Homo sapiens: one gene and its partner. The protein of the gene in region 2 interacts with the protein of the main gene of each other region in a pairwise test. Each region holds a gene or a part of one and is shown on either strand. Other genes may lie near its edges.

Evidence for each region. Proteins that work in one complex are often made in the same cells at the same time.
Region 1: the proteins of ZHX2 (region 2) and NAGPA interact in a two-hybrid assay, tested with the Homo sapiens proteins (one large-scale study listed by BioGRID and IntAct).

The regions. Positions count from the first base shown.
Region 1 is NC_000016.10:5,024,197-5,027,643, reverse strand, and holds the end of NAGPA (N-acetylglucosamine-1-phosphodiester alpha-N-acetylglucosaminidase precursor), read left to right. Parts: intron 1-264; coding exon 265-366; intron 367-445; coding exon 446-509; intron 510-1,958; coding exon 1,959-2,166; 3' UTR 2,167-2,800; downstream 2,801-3,447. UniProt on the Homo sapiens protein: Catalyzes the second step in the formation of the mannose 6-phosphate targeting signal on lysosomal enzyme oligosaccharides by removing GlcNAc residues from GlcNAc-alpha-P-mannose moieties, which are formed in the first step.
Region 2 is NC_000008.11:122,780,130-122,783,880, forward strand, and holds the start of ZHX2 (zinc fingers and homeoboxes protein 2), read left to right. Parts: upstream 1-1,525; 5' UTR 1,526-1,817; intron 1,818-2,756; exon of another isoform or gene 2,757-3,040; intron 3,041-3,751. UniProt on the Homo sapiens protein: Acts as a transcriptional repressor. Represses the promoter activity of the CDC25C gene stimulated by NFYA.

The DNA.
Region 1 (3,447 bases), on a different chromosome or scaffold from region 2:
TCCCCGGGCTCTGGCTCCAGGGCCCACCTCAAATCCAGCACGGTCTTATCTTGAGATCCTAACTGCAGTGCCTCTGTAGAGATTCTGCTTCCAAATAAGGTCACGTTCAGGGGCTAGTCCAGGGAGGGCAGGGGGTGCTTCACCTTTAGCCCGGCTCTGTACACATGGGCAGGGGCAGGTATCCTGTCCTGTCGAGAAAGGCTCTGACACTGGAGGCCCCAACCTTTCTCCTCCCTCCTCCCTCCTCCCATCTCCTTTCCATAGAGTGTCCCCTTGGCTGGCATGGGCCGGGCTGCCAGAGGCCTTGTAAGTGTGAGCACCATTGTCCCTGTGACCCCAAGACTGGCAACTGCAGCGTCTCCAGAGGTACCTATCCCTCCAAGGGGAGGGGTATGGGCAGACGCTCCTGCTCCGGCCCCTTCAGCCTGTCTCTGGTATGTTACAGTAAAGCAGTGTCTCCAGCCACCTGAAGCCACCCTGAGGGCGGGAGAACTCTCCTTTTTCACCAGGTAGGTGCTTCTGTGGGAGCTGGGGCCAGGGCGGGAGGAATCCCCCTTCTCTCCCGCACCCTTCCCCTGTGAGGTCCATCTCTGCCCTTGTCCCCTGCCAGCTCCCTGCCTTAGAGGAAGCGGGACCAGCTCTCCCCACTGTCTGCTTTGGGGACCCTGGAGCAGAGCCCAGGGCCTTCGAGTGCCCAGCCTCTGTTGTCAGCATCCCCCACTGGAGCTCAGAATGCAAACTGGGCTAGATGAGATCCCAGGGTGGGGGCAGGAGGTTTCCTCATTCTGTCACCCAGGCAGAAGTGCTGTAGTACAGTCAGCTCACTGCGATCCTCCCGCCTCAGCCTCCCAAGTAGCTAGGACGACAGGCACGTGCCCCCATGCCCGGCTAATTTTATTTCTTACTGTTTTTTAGAGATAGGATCTCACTATTTTGCACAGACGAGGTGCACAGTCCTGGGCTCAAGTGATCCTCCCACCTTGGCCTCCCAGCCCCCATGCCCAGCATCCAGCTGTGTTTTATTTGGCTTACATAATTTTTAAAAAGTTAAAATATATCAGCAGCATCTAAAAATCAGTAACATTCACATTTTTTTAAACTTTTTTTTTTGAGACGGGGTCTCACTCTGTTGCCTAGGCTGGAGTGCAGTGGTGCGATCTCAGCTCACCACAACCTCCGCCTCCTGGGTTCAGGCAATTCTCCTGCCTCAGTCTCCTGAGTAGCTGGGATTACAGGTGCCCGGCTAATTTTCATATTTTTAGTAGAGACAGGATTTCGCCATGTTGGCCAGGCTGGTCTTGAACTCCTGACCTCAAGTGATACGCCCGCCTAAGCCTCACAAAGTGCTGGGATTGCAGGCATGAGCACCACGCCCAGCCTTAAAAACCTTTTTAATGGCTTCTCTTAAAATATCAGGCCAGGCGTGGTGGCTCACGCCTGTAATCCTAGCACTTTGGGAGGCCGAGGCAGGTGGATCACTTGAGGTCAGGAGTTCAAGACCAGCCTGGCCAACATGGTGAAACCTGGTCTCTACTGAAAATACGAAAATTAGCCAGGCGTGGTGATTCGAGCCTGTAGTCCCAGCTACTCGGGAGTCCAAGGCAGGGGAATCGTTTGAAGCCAGGAGGCGGAGATTGCAGTGAGCTGAGATCATGCCACTGCACTCCAGCCTGGATGACAGGGCGAGACTCTGTCTCAAAAAAAAAAAAAAAAAATCAGGAGATGGGGCAGCACGGACCTGCATTGTACGTCATGACTGCCTCTGCTGTTCCCTGCACATGTCTTAAATGTTGCCCCATCCCCACCTAGTCCATTTTGCTCATAACATTCCCTGTGTGGTCCCTGGAGGCACCTGATTTAGTGCTATCTATGCCGGGTAGAGGGAAGCCCCTCCAGTGCTACCCAAGCCCTGAGCCCACCCAGCAGTCCCCCACTTGGGGCTTCTCTCCTGTCTGCAGGACCGCCTGGCTAGCCCTCACCCTGGCGCTGGCCTTCCTCCTGCTGATCAGCACTGCAGCAAACCTGTCCTTGCTCCTGTCCAGAGCAGAGAGGAACCGGCGCCTGCATGGGGACTATGCATACCACCCGCTGCAGGAGATGAACGGGGAGCCTCTGGCCGCAGAGAAGGAGCAGCCAGGGGGCGCCCACAACCCCTTCAAGGACTGAAGCCTCAAGCTGCCCGGGGTGGCACGTCGCGAAAGCTTGTTTCCCCACGGTCTGGCTTCTGCAGGGGAAATTTCAAGGCCACTGGCGTGGACCATCTGGGTGTCCTCAGCCCCTGTGGGGCAGCCAAGTTCCTGATAGCACTTGTGCCTCAGCCCCTCACCTGGCCACCTGCCAGGGCACCTGCAACCCTAGCAATACCATGCTCGCTGGAGAGGCTCAGCTGCCTGCTTCTGGCCTGCCTGTGTCTGCTGCCGAGAAGCCCGTGCCCCCGGGAGGGCTGCCGCACTGCCAAAGAGTCTCCCTCCTCCTGGGGAAGGGGCTGCCAACGAACCAGACTCAGTGACCACGTCATGACAGAACAGCACATCCTGGCCAGCACCCCTGGCTGGAGTGGGTTAAAGGGACGAGTCTGCCTTCCTGGCTGTGACACGGGACCCCTTTTCTACAGACCTCATCACTGGATTTGCCAACTAGAATTCGATTTCCTGTCATAGGAAGCTCCTTGGAAGAAGGGATGGGGGGATGAGATCATGTTTACAGACCTGTTTTGTCATCCTGCTGCCAAGAAGTTTTTTAATCACTTGAATAAATTGATATAATAAAAGGAGCCACCAGGTGGTGTGTGGATTCTGAATCATGGACTTAGGTCACTGCTAGGGCTTAGCAGGTGTGGCTTATCCTGAAACAGAAGTCACAACGGCATCCTGGAGCCAAGTCCTGTTCCCTGCTTGTTTAATCCAGTGCTTATCAAACTTTAATATGCCACAGGTCACGAGGAGATCTTGTTAAAATGCAGATTTGGGCCTGGGGTGAGGCCAGCAATTCTGCGTTTCCAACAAGCTCTCTGACGATGCTGATGCTTCAGGTCCCCAGACCACACTTCTTGTCTTTCTTAGAAACAGGGTCTCGCTCTGTTGCCCTGGCTGGAGTGCAATGGCACGATCTCGGCTCACTGCAATTTTGACCTCCTGGGCTCAAGTGATTCTCCCACCTCAGTCTCTCAAGTAGCTGGGACTATAGGCACATGCCACCATGCCCAGCTAATTTTTAAAATTTTTTTTGCAGAGAAGGGGTGTCACTGAGTTGCCCAGGCTGGTCTCAAGCTCCTGGCCTCAAGTCAACCTCCTGCCATGGCCTCCCAAAGTGCTGAGATTACAGGTTCGAGCCACTGCGCCTGGCCCCTGACCATAATTTGAATGACCAGGGCTTAGTTTTTCCTCACAGTATTTTTATAGAATTTAAATTAGTTACCCATGTTTAAAAGTCAAGAGATTTTAAAAT
Region 2 (3,751 bases):
GCGCATCCGCCACCCAGTCAGCCCCAAGGCCAGCCGTCCTCACCCCAGTCCGGGTCCTCGCCATTGGCCTCTCCGCTGCACACGGCCACCTGTTGATGCCCTCGCGCCCACAGCCGAGTTGCAAACGGCCGCTAGAGTTCGTTCTAATTCCCCAGAGCAGAGCTGCCCGGGAAGCCCCGACGCGACGCGCCTGCTAATCTGCAGGGCGGGCGGGGACTCCGCAGAGCCTCCCAGCCCCAGGCTCCCTTTGTTTTCTCGCTGCGCTCGAAGCTTCTAAACTAGCCCCCAGACCGCATCCCCTCGTCCCCGCCCGGGAGCTGCCCAAGAGTCCACAGGCCAGCCCAGGGGGAAACAAGGTACATCTGGGCAGGAATGCGCGGCGCAGACAGGTTGCCGCCTGAGATCCCGAAGTGTACCCAGATCCCGAATTCCTTAGAGCTCTTTAGCCGAGCACTGTGGCAGGAGCGCGGCGCCCGGAATACAAGTTCATGGTTCCGAGCCGGCGGGCGAAGGGCAGCGCGATCCCCCGCCACCTTTGCTCTAAGGCGCCTAGGGGAACCTGGGGGCTGCCGCGGTGAGAGCTCCGCTCCCACTGGGAACATTGGAGTCCCAGTTGCGAAAGCGACCCGCCTAGCTTCCGAGGGACTTCTCTGCGAGCACCGCAGGCGTGTGCATTTCTTCGAATCTGAGAATTCCAGCGAACTCGGGCTCTACCAGAGTTTAAGTCGGCCCCTGGGGCGTCTGTTTGTTTATTGGCTCTTAAGGGAAAAAAGTTTGAAGATCTTTAACCAGCCTCAGACCTGGCGCGGGCGGAAATCCCGGAATCTCCCCAAGCAAAAGTGATATAACTTCAAGTCGTTATATAAGTGGGGGGCTCCTTCTTCCCCTCCCTACGCCGAGCCTTCTCATTATCATTCCGGGAGTAAAATGTGTCTCGCTCAACATAGTTTTAAAATCGTTATTATTATTTTCCTGAGCCTGAAGCCGGGCCAAGGCGCAGGCAGCGCCCAGGGTGCGTGGTGGCCCCACCCGCGCACAGTCCCACGCAAAGGGTCCCGGGGCCCGGGTACCGCCAGAGCCGGGCCTGCAAGCGCGCCCTTCGGTCCCACGGTCCGCCACTCCACGTGGTCAAGATCAACAGTTTGTTGAGCTCATCAGTGACACCTTGAACTTTTCATAAAGAAAATGGGTATTGCACGGAGACGGTTTGGCCGCGGCCGCCGCGCGGGGTCGTGCTTAATATTCAATGATCTCGCTCGCGCCTCCCCCTCCTCTTCTCGCAGAAATTCCACCGAGTCCGTTACTGGGCTCAGACTTTTAAGTTAATTTACTGCCCCCCTACCTTGGCCAGTAACCAGCGCCTTTAGGGCTAGCCTCCCCCCCAGCTCCTGCCTGAAAAATGACATTTCGCCGGTGTCTCCGGAGGGGGCTGAATTTCACTTTGTAACTTTCTGCGGAACCCGAGCCCGGGTGGCAGCTCGGGTGGTGGTATCGTATGCAAATACGCATGCTGACGTTACAGATCATGTGGGTTTTGGCGTAGATTCCCCACTGATCGAGGCATTTTTTTTCCCTTTTTTTTTCCTTTTTTTTTTTCTTTTAAAAATTTTGGCCATCGTTCTCCGTACGGGGGCTTTTTCTGTCTGTCTGTCTGGCTGGCAGGCTGGCTTTCCCCCTCTTTCCCACGGAGCCCGAGCCGGGCGCCCGGTGGGGAGTGGGGAGTGGGTGGGGGGAGCCAGCAGAGTTCCATTTTGGAACGCCCGTGCCGCGTCTCCGCGTTCCCAGCCCGGGTCCCCGCGTTCACAGCCCCAGCGCAGGTAAGAAACTTCGCCTCGGCGCGGAGCCCCCCAGCCGGCGCCGCCGGCCCCAAACCCCGCACGCCGGGCGCCGGCCACTCCAGCCCAACTTTCCCACCGCCGCCGTCGCCGCCGCGGCTCCCGAAAATGTGTTGTTAATGGGACTTGGCCGGGTTTGTGATTGGAAGGGGGGTACGGAAGGGGGGGGGTGTGCAGGCTCTTTTTGCGGGTGGGAGGAAATGAGCGGATACAGAGAGGGAAGAAGATTTTTTTTTTAAGAGTTTTGATTACAAGTTTGGATAAATGGGAGCCAGAGCGAGGAGGAGGAGGAGGAGGAGGAAAAACATGTCTACGTTTCCCTATGTCGACATAAGCCACAAAAAAATATGGCGTCCGCTTTCGACAGGGCGTTACGTAGACCCGACTGTTTTTATTTATTTATTTCGTGGCCGTCTCCCTCCCTTCTTGGCCAAACTGCGGCGCTTTGTGCAAACGGGGCAGGTCCCGCGGGGACTCCACCGGGACGTGGCCCCGTCTCCGCGCGTTTTGGCAGGCGGGGGGCTGCGTGTGTCTGCTCCCCTCCCTCCCCCTCTCCCCTCGCTCCCCTCTCCCGGTGACGATTCGCCGTAATGTGGTGGCAGGAAGCATGACGCCGTGGGCCGAGGCTGCCTCTGCTCTCGTCGCTCCCGGCGGCTGCAGGCAGCGGGCGCGCAGCGCGGGCGGCAGCCGAGCTACCTGGCGGGGGCAGGGCCGGAGCGCGGCGCTGTCCTCACCCCCGCTCAGGTGCAGGGGGAGTCCGCGCGGGGCGGGGGGCCGAGGGCGGCCGCGGGACCCCCGGCCCTGCTGTCCGCTGCCAGCTGGCCGGAGCCTCTGCCAGCCCGAGCCCACGTTCGCCCCCCTGAACGGCAGCTGGCGCTTTTCGTCTGCCCCACAAGAGGTTAATCTTTGTTGGTGTTGCAGCTTCTTTGTGGCTTCCCCAGGACTTGTATCCTCGGCTTTGCAAACTTGCCCTTTTCCCAGCCGCTTTGCAGGAGGCTGCGGAGACGAAGATGAGCGGAAAGTTGGAAACCAGCAGGCATCACAGGACGGTCCCTTTGGCCTCGTAGCTGTGCTGAGCCTGGGAGGCGGAGGAGGAGGTGGAGGCGGCGGCGGAGGAGGGTTTGTCAGGCTGGGGAGAAAACTTGATGAGGAAGCCAAATTGTGATTTGTTCAGGTTTCCACCTGATTGATAGTCTTCAAAGCCAGTAGGTCTCTACCTTCAACTGTTTCGCGGTGGCCTTTTGTTTGTCTGGGGCGTGGAGAAGGAGAGAAGTCGATGAATAAGGACTTTCCCTCGACCCCTCCCCTTTTAAAGAGTGGTTGCTCAGCTTGGCCCCCTGGGACACTGCCTTTTAGGCCCTGGAGTTCTTCCCCAACCTGCTCTCTGATCACTTTCTCTCTGTTAAGTTACCAGATCTCCAGGTCTCAGGCAGGCCCCGATGAGCAGAATGGAGTTAGAGGAGAGGATTCCTTCCCCCAGCACTTCTTGAATTGCCCAGACCTCCCACAATTACCCTCTTAAAACCACACACACACACACTTACTCACTCTCTCCTTTATATATGGCAGAAATTAATGCCTGTAGAAGTGAAGGGGGTGAGGTTCTGAGAGCTCTTCAAGATTTGAGTCAAAAGGTGATTTTCTGTTTATGAGGGCAGCGAGTTTAAGCAGTTCACTCCCAGGGCAGTAATGTCAAAAAGCGTTTGGATGACGACCAAGTGGAATAAATATCTTGTAAAATGGCATGTTTAATAGTAAAAATAGATTAATGGAGCTGTCAAGTGGTTGAATGGGACTACCATAAAGGTTTAAGTTTAAAGGGAAAGTTATGTAAAGCTGTATACACAGCTTCTTTTAAGGCCAGAAGGGAAAAAATCTACAAGTAAGGCTGAAATGTGTCACTGACAATAATTGGA